2 separate regions of the Homo sapiens genome follow, and region 1 is linked to region 2. Evidence: fine-mapped expression QTL. Tissue or cell type: subcutaneous fat. Region 2 holds a variant in brackets; the other region holds the start of a gene. All regions are shown on one strand. Distances are between the middles of the regions.

Region 1 (4,388 bases), 100 kb before region 2:
TCTCCACGCAGCCGCCGAACACCAGCGCCCTGCAGGCCTCATTCACAAACTGGCTGGCCAGGTGCAGCTCGGGGCCCTCAGGCATCCTGAGGGAGGGTGGCAGAGTCCTGTTGGGGAGGAAGGCAGCGGGTTGAGCCCGGTGTGGACTTTGTGAGGTAGCGGCTGTCAGCCCCATTTTTAGAGGAGAACTCGGAGGGTCAGATGGGCATGTGGCCAGCTGCGGCTGGCAGGAAAGTGCGGGCCTGGCCACGGCCCTCAATCCCCTACCCGGACAGGTGCCTGGAAAGCCCAGGGCGCTGGGAGCTGGGGCTGCAGAGGGAGCAGGACTCTGCCTTGCTGCTAACCGCTTCCTTCCATGGGCTTCCACCGCGTTTAGACGAAAGTCCCAATCCTTGCGGGGCCGCGGCTGCAGCCTTACTTCTTCCCGGCTCCCCTCACTCACGGATCTCATCTCCGCCTTGGCCCCTGCTGTCCCTCTGTCCCAGACACTTGAGGGAGACTTCCTGACCCCCCATCTGAGGGAGCACCCCCTCCGCACACGCTGTCTCTTTCTCCAGGCTCTCCCACCATCTGAAAGGGTCTTAGGATCGCGTGGCCGCCCCTCCCTGCGCCCCCCTCCCCCCACACTTAGGACCCGCCTGGATCTGGCCGCTCACCACCGAGGGAAAGAGCGAAGCTCGGCCTGGCGCGGGGGAGCGGCGGGAGCGGCCGAATCGGCCGCTTGGCCGCAGCGAGAACCGGGCCTGCCCCACGGACCGGACATCCCCGCGGCCGCCCCCGGGTCAGGGCAGGGGCCAGGACGAGGCGGGCGGGCTGCCGCCATGCGCTGGAGCCGCTCCCCATGGCTCCGCAGGAGGACGGCGGGCACCAGGAAGGGCTCCCCGAGCTCCTGCCCCGGGCCTGGGGGAGGGAAAGGGCCCGCGGCAGCGCCTGGTCCCTGGGGTGGGGGGTATCGACTCCTCACCTCCGCCCTCCCTGCTTTGCCACTTGCCTCTGTCCCCGGGCGGTTCGGAATCGGAGGCGAAGGTGTGCCTTAAGTGGAAGGGGGCACTTAGCGACGGCAGACGCCCGTACCTTGCCCCCTCCACACCTGGGAGCCGCCCCTGGCCTGGCACCCACAGGGCTCGTTTTGCGGGAGAACGTGAGGCTCCAAATCCTAGTTTTGGGGAGGAGCGGCGCTCTCGGGCCCGTCCTCCCCATGCCCCCGCTGCGACCCTGTCCTCGGTTAATCCTGACTCCCCTCCTCCTCAGGGCCCCCCAAAGCTCATCTTCTCCTTAGCCCTACAGCGCACCCCCCACAACCCGATCCTGCACGCCCCCTCCCCGGGAACCCGCACTCCGTTCCGCTCGTCGCCACTGCAGCCACTAAAGGGTTAACGCCAGAACGGGCGGTGCCCGGGAGCGCGCTGGGAGCCGCTGGGAGGTGTAGTCCCTCAGGGAAGCGGTCGCGATTCTTCGGGGTGGGGTCCCCGAGCTTGGGGGGTTCCAGGCTTTGGGGCAGGCTTCGGGGCAGTTACCTGGCTGGGAGGTGGCGGAAGAACCTGACTTCCCACTGCCTGGCGCCGGCGAGATGCGGGGGCAGGTCTGAGGCCCCGGGTCGCCGCTGTCTCTGCGGTTGGGGGAAGTCACCCAGCTAGCGTGGGACAGGGTCGGCACCCCCAGCAGGAAACAGCAGCGACGAGCCAGAGCGGAGTCGCCTGCAGCTGCGCGCAGGACGTGCACAGGTGCGCGGTACGCACAGGCCCTAGGGACCCGGTGGGGATCTTAAGCACCAACGAACAGTCAGACCTAACTCATAAACAAACATCATCACGGCCTGCCCTGTCAGAAGCGCAGCCAAGCAACAACAACAACAAAAAAAGGCGAGGAGGTAGACCCACTTGAGATGGTTCTGTTGCGGAGAGTCTCTGAAATCAGAAAGCGCCAGTCCGCAAAAACGAGGAAACCCGACGTGTCCGGCGGAAGGAACCGCCAGTACAAAGGCCCTGAGGCGAGAAAGAGATTGGTCACTGAAAGAACTCAAAGAAGTCCTGTGTGGCTGGAGTATAGCTGCGGGTTAGTGCTGGCAGGTGAAGACAGAGAAGCAAACCCAGGTCAGGTCCGGTTGGGCCTCGGGAGGGCCTCCGTGTGGAGTCTGCACTTCATTCTAAGTGTATACCTAACCCATCGCCACGATTTCCCCTCCTTCACACTACCCTGCTACGTCTCCTTATTAGGCGTAATAAAATTATGTGGCTTTGTAAGAAATTGGTTTTTAGAGATGCATGTTAAAGTATTGGGTATGAAATGTCATGATTTGTCTAATTTACTTTAAAATACTTCTGCCATAATAAATGAATAGAATTAACAACTTGATATTAGTTGACAATATCTAATAATATCTAAGTTATTAGAAATTAGTTAACAGTAACTTCTTTTTTTGAGACAGGGTCTCACTGTGTCACCCAGGCTGGAGTGCGGTGGTGAAATCTCGGCTCACTGCAGCCTCCACTTCCCGGGTTCAAGTGATTCTCCTGCCTCAGCCTCCCGAGTAACTGGGATTACAGGCGTGTGCCACATGCCTGGCTAATTTTCATATTTTTAGTAGAGATGAGGTTTCGCCTTGTTGGCCAGGCTGGTCTTGAACTCCTGACCTCAAGTAATCTGCCCGCCTCGGCCTCCCAAAGTGCTGGGATTACAGAAGTGAGCCACCATGCCCAGCCAACAGTAACTTCTTAATATCATCTAATAGCTAGTCCACATCCAGATTTCCCCAATTGTCCCAAATATATATATATATACACATATAGACAGGGTCTCACTCTGTCCCCCAGGCTACAATCATGGGTCATTGCAGCCTCCGACCTCCCGGGCTCAAGTGATCCTCAGCCTCAGCCTCCCAAGTAGCTGGGACTACAGGCACACACCACCACGCCTGGCTAATTCATGTTTTGTAAGGATGTGGTCTCACTATGTTGCCTGGGCCAGCCTCAAACTCCTGGGCTCAAGCCATCCCCCGACCTCGGGGTCCCAAAGTGTTGGGATTACAGGCGTGAGCCACCGCGCCTGGCTGGATTATATCTTTTTAATAATTTTAAATCTAGATGAAACCACCTTCCCTCTCCCACCCACTTCATCCCCTTCTTTTATCTTCATGATACCTTTCTGAAGAGTCTCAGCCAGTTGTTGTTTGAGATAGATGCTGCATCACATTCTCAATTTGTCTGAATGTATCCTCAGGGTGTCACTGATATTGTCACAGAGATTGGTCCTCTATCTGTGGTTCATCCTGCATGCTGGGAATTAGATCTAAAGGCTTGATTATATAAATATTCAGGGATACTTCCTAGGTGCTGCTCTGTACTTCGTTGTTTTTTGTTTTGTTTTGTTTTATTTGAGATGGAGTCTTGCTCTGTCACCCAGACTGGAGTGCAGTGGCACGATCTTGGCTCACTGCAACCTCTGCCTCCCAGGTTCAAGTGATTCTCTTGCCTCAGCCTCCTGAGTAGCTGAGACTACAGGCATATGCCACCACTCCCAGCTGATTTTTGTATTTTTAGTAGAGACGGGGTTTCACCATGTTGGCCAGGCTGGTCTCAAACTCCTGACCTCAGGTGATCTGCCTGCCTCGGCCTCCCAAAGTGCTGGGATTACAGGGATAAGCCACTACGCCTGGCCACTGCTCTGTACTTTGAATTGCATCATATCAGGAGGCACCCAATATCTCATTGTCCCACTTTATTGGGAGCTGAAACTGATCAAGACAGGGGCTGTGGCAGCCAGACCTCTGCATTAGAAAACATATGGTTCATACCTTGTGAACACCAAATAATCTATGGAGTAATTTCTTTGTTGTTCTCTTGTTTAAATAAAGGTATAATTTACATATAGTAAAATTTACCCCTTTCAGACTGCAATATTTGACAAACACATAGTCATGTAACTGCCACCCCAATGAAGAGATAACACACATTGAAGCATTATTCCCAAGATGTGGAAACAACCAACCGATACATGGATTTTTTAAAATGTGATATATAATAGGCTGGGCATGGTGGCTCATGCATGTAATCTCAGCCCTTTGGGAGGCCAAGACAGGAGGACTGCTTGAGCCCACGAGTTCAAGACCAGCCTGGTCAACATAGGGAGATTCCATCTCTATATAAGAAAAGAATTAGCATAGTGGTATGCATCTGTAGTCCCAGCTACTCCAGAGGCTGTGGTTGGAGGACTGCTTGAGCCTGGGAGTCAGAGGCTACAGTGAACTGTGATCATGCTGCTGCACTCTAGCCTGGATGACAGAGTGAAACCTTATCCCCATCCCTGCCCCCCTAAAAAAAATGTGGTATATGATGGAATATTATTCAGCCTTTAAAAAAAGGAAATACTGCCACATGCAACAACATGGG
Region 2 (4,388 bases):
TTCTCATGTATACAGCCTTTAGTCTCCCCCTGGTCCAACACCCTTATGTCCACTTCTTCACCTCCTCTCCTAGATTCTGCCAGTAGGCACTTGGCAGCTCCTGCATTTTTGGCAAAAAAAAAAAAAAAAAAATCATTCTCCCAGAGCAGATTGTGCCTGTGACCTTGGGCCATGATGAGAAATGACCATAGCCTGGTGTCAATGTGGGGCAGCAATGACGACACACCTCATCCTGCTGTAAGGCCTTGTTGGAGGCTCTTTGCCTAGTCTCCAGGCAAGGGGCAGCTGCCCTTCTCTTAGCAAGGAAAGGGGGCTACTTCCTTTAGACCAGAGCATTTAGTGGAAACTGGAGGTTCAAAGTTCTCAGATGTATCCACTTAAGTTTCTCCATATCAGATATCAGGATCCCTTTTCTTTTCATTTTGTTTCATTTCGTTTTGTTTCATTTCTTTTCTTTTCTTTATTTTGAGATGGGATCTCACTCTGTCACCCAGGCTGGAGTGCAGTGGCATGTTCTCAACTGACTGCAACCTCCACCTCCCAGGCTCAAGCAATCCTTCCCACCTCAGCCTCTTGAATAGCTGGGACCACAGGTGCGCAACACCATGCCTGGCTAATTTTTTGTATTTTTGGTAAAGATGGGGTTTTGCCATGTTGCCCAGTCTGGTCTCAAACTCCTGAACTCAAGAGGTCCACCCACCCTGGCCTCCTGAAGTGTTGGGTTACAAGTGTGAGCCACTGTGCCCAGCCCTTTCTTTGTCTTCTTTTTTTTTTGTTTGTTTGTTTTTTTTTTTTTTGACATGAGGTCTTGCTCTGTTACCCCGGCTGGAGTGGAGTGGTGTGATCATGGCTTGCTGCAGCCTCAACCTCCTGGGCTCAAGCAATCCTCCCACCTCAGCCTCCTGAGTAGCTGGAACCACAGGCATGTGCCACCACACCTAGCTAATTTTAAATATTTTGTGGACAGGGTCTACCTATGTTGCCCAGGCCGGTCTCCAGCGCCAGGTCTCAAGCATGCAGCCGTGCTGCTGCTGATGATCCAGGAACCAGATTTGGAGAACTTTGTTCTAGCGCTACTGCATCAGCAATGCCTGCCCTTCCACCTGTACCATATCCCAATCCACAGTAGGTGAGTTTCCTAGTGATGGTATTGCTATAGCCCACCAGCACATCACTACCCCACTTACCACCAACAATGGATCCTGTTGCCACCTGATTAGTGAGTTCCAGGATCCTGTCCTAAAAGTCTACTCTCTAGGGCTACTTTTTAAAATTTTTAAAAAATTTTTATTTTATTTTTATTATTATTTTTGAGATGGAGTCTCGCTCTGTCACCCAGGCTGGAGTACAGTGGCATGATCTCAGCTCACTGCAACCTCCACCTCCCAGGTTCAAGTGATTCTCCTGCCTCAGCCTCCCGAGTAGCTGGGACTACAGCCACATGCCACCATGGCTGGCTAATTTTTGTATTTTTAGTAGAGATAGGGTTTCACCATATTGGTCAGGCTGGTCTCAAACTCCTGACATCAGGTGATTCACCCACCTCAGCCTCCCAAAGTGCTGGGATTACAGGCATGAGCCACCACACCTAGCCCAAATATCTTTATTTTGTCTTCTTATCTGACAGATATTTTCACTAAGAATGGAACTTGAGGCTGGCAGTTATTTTCTTTTGGTACAGTGAAGGTGTCATTCCATGGTCTTCTGGTTCCTGAGGTTTCTGTTGACTGACAGCCTAATTGTTGCTCCTTTGAAGGCAATCTGAATTTTTTCTCAGATACTCTTTTTTGGTAGGGGACCAAAAAAAGGGGTCATGCACTACCAAAGTGCTGGATTACAGGGTCTCACTTTGTCACCCAGGCTGAAGTGCAGTGGTGCAATCTCAGCTCACTGCAGCCCAGACCTCCTGGTCTCAAGCAATCCTTCGACCTCAGCACTTCAAGTAGCTGGGACTCCAGGCATACACCACCACACTTGACTAATTTTTTCTATTTTTTGTAGAGACAGGGTTTCACCATGTTGCCTAGGCCAGCCTTTAACTCCTGAGCTCAAGCAAACCACCCACCTCAGCCTCTCAAAGTGCTGGCATTACAGGCATGAGCCAACATGACTGGCTCGGATACTTTTAAGATTAAAGAAAGTTTTTGCCTTTGGCTTTCTGCAATTTTACCATAACGTGTCTAGGTGTACTATTATTTTTATTTGTCCTGCTTGGGGTTCATGAGGCTTCTTAAATCTGTGAACTATTGTTTTTCATAATTTAAAAAGTATTCTCTGTCATTATTTTTTTAAAATATTGCTTCTGCCTCATTATCTCTTTCTATCCCTTTATTTATTTATTTTGAGACAGGGTCTTGCTCTGTTGCCCAGGCTGAAGTGCTCACTGCAGCCTAGAGCTCCCAGGCCCAAGAGATGCTCCCAGATCAGCCTCTCTAGTAGCTGGGACCAC[G/A]GGCGTGCACCACCACACCTGGCTAATTTTCGTATTTTTTGTAGAGTCGGGGTTACACCATGTTGCCCAGGCTAGTATTGAACTCCTGGGCTCAGGCGATCTGCCTGCTTTGGCCTCCCAAAGTGCTGGGATTCTGTGAGCCACTGCGCCTGGCCCCTCTTTCCTTTTTTTCTGGGATGCTGATTAAAGGTATATTTGGCCTAGTCAAATATGTGGTGGTGTGCACCTGTAGTCCCAGCTACTTGAAGGGCTAAGGTGGAAGCATTGCTTGAGCCCAGGAGATCCAGGCTGCAGTGAGCTGAGATCGCACCACTACACTCCAGCCTGGGTGACAAAGTGAGACCCTGTAATCCAGCACTCTGGGAGTGTATGATCCCTTTTTTGTCCCCCCGCAACCCCAGAAGTATCTGAGAAAAAATTCAGGTTGCCTTCAAAGGAGCAATAATTAGGCTGACAGTCAACTTCTCAACAGAAACCTCAGGAACCAGAAGACCATGGAATGACACCTTCACCGTACCAAAAGAAAATAACTGCCAGCCTCAAGTTCCATTCTTAGCGAAAATATCTGTCAGATAAAAAGGCAAAATAAAGATATTTGGGCCAGGTGTGATGGCTCACGCCTGTTATCTTAGCACTATTTTTTTTTTTAAATGACAAAATATTTTTAAATTATGAAAATATATCTCTAGAGGATCCCTAGTGTATCCTCTGTATCACTTACTTTCTCTTCTGTGTGTTTTATTTTTTTTGTCCCTTCATGTTTCATTCTGAATATTTTCTTCTGAATTACTAGGTTGGTGAAAAAGTAATTGCAGTTTTTGCCATTTTATTTTATTTTATTTTATTTTATTTTTTTGAGATGGAGTTTCACTCTGTCGCCCAGGCTGGAGTGCGGTGGCACAATCTCAGCTCACTGCAACCTCCACCTCCTGGGTTCGAGCAATTCTCCTGCCTCAGCTTCCTGAGTAGCTGTGATTACAGGCTTGTGCCACCACTCCTGGCTAATTTTTGTATTTTTAGTAGAGATGGGGTTTCACCATGTTGGCCAGGCTGGTCTTGAACTCCTGACCTCAGGTGATCTGCCCACCTCTGTCTCCCAAAGTGCTGGGATTACAGGCATGAGCCACCGCGCCTGGCCAGCCATTACTTTCAATATCTTCCAGTTCATTAATTCTCTCTCAACTGTGTCTAATTGGCTCTGGAAACCATGAATGGAATTATTAATTTTAGTTATTGTATTTTGTCTTTCTTTCTTTTTCTAAGAGAGAGCCTTCTTCTACCACCCAGGATGGAGTGTAGTGGTGCGATCATAGCTCAATGTAACCTCAAACTTCTGGGCTTAGGTGATTCTCCCGCCTCACCCTCCTGAGTAGCCAGACCTATAGGCACAGACCACCAGCTGGTCTCAAATTCCTGGGCCTCAAGCAGTAACCCTGCCTCGGCCTCCCAAAGTATTGGGATTATAGGCATGAGCCACTGAGCCCCAAGTTAATGCTATTGTACTTTTCAATTTAGAATTTACTTTTTAAATACCTGTGGTGCTATTTTTTTTGTAGTTTTCTAAACTCTTGCATCTTATATTTTACTTCCTTGAACATATTAAGTATAGTTATTTTGTAGCCTGTGTCTGATTCCAATATCTGGAATCTCCGAGCATGTTTCTATCGTTGCTTCTTTCTGATAGTTCTTGGTTCATGTTGTGTTGTGTCCTACTGAGTCTAGCTACCTTAGTTGTGTGCCAAACATTTTTTAAAAATCAGTTTGTAATGCTTTGAGGCTTACGATAATGTTGTCTTCCTCCAGAGACAATTCTGTTTTCCCATTCCACATACCTGAATACACTAGCAATCCAAAAATTTTAAATTCAATTTTGGGGATTGAGGCCGGGTGCGGTGGCTCACACCTGTAATCTCAGCACTTTGGGAGGCCAAGGCGGGTG

Evidence for each region. PIP is the estimated chance that this variant, and not a neighbour inherited with it, causes the effect.
Region 1: it holds the start of NEIL1, and the variant in region 2 is the best candidate, but not a certain one, in a credible set for the expression of NEIL1 in subcutaneous fat (GTEx, PIP 0.73).

What each region holds. Positions count from the first base shown.
Region 1 is chr15:75,344,603-75,348,990 of GRCh38, reverse strand. NEIL1 (nei like DNA glycosylase 1) reads right to left here and starts at 1,952. Exons shown (of 10, transcript NM_024608.4): 1 at 1,518-1,952; 2 at 1-107. The coding sequence starts at 85. RefSeq lists a silencer at 741-930 and an enhancer at 2,151-2,200.
Region 2 is chr15:75,241,745-75,246,132 of GRCh38, reverse strand. No RefSeq gene overlaps it. Among named protein-coding and RNA genes, the nearest start is that of GOLGA6C, 14 kb to the left of the region's middle. The variant G/A (reference allele first, on the strand shown) is at 2,450.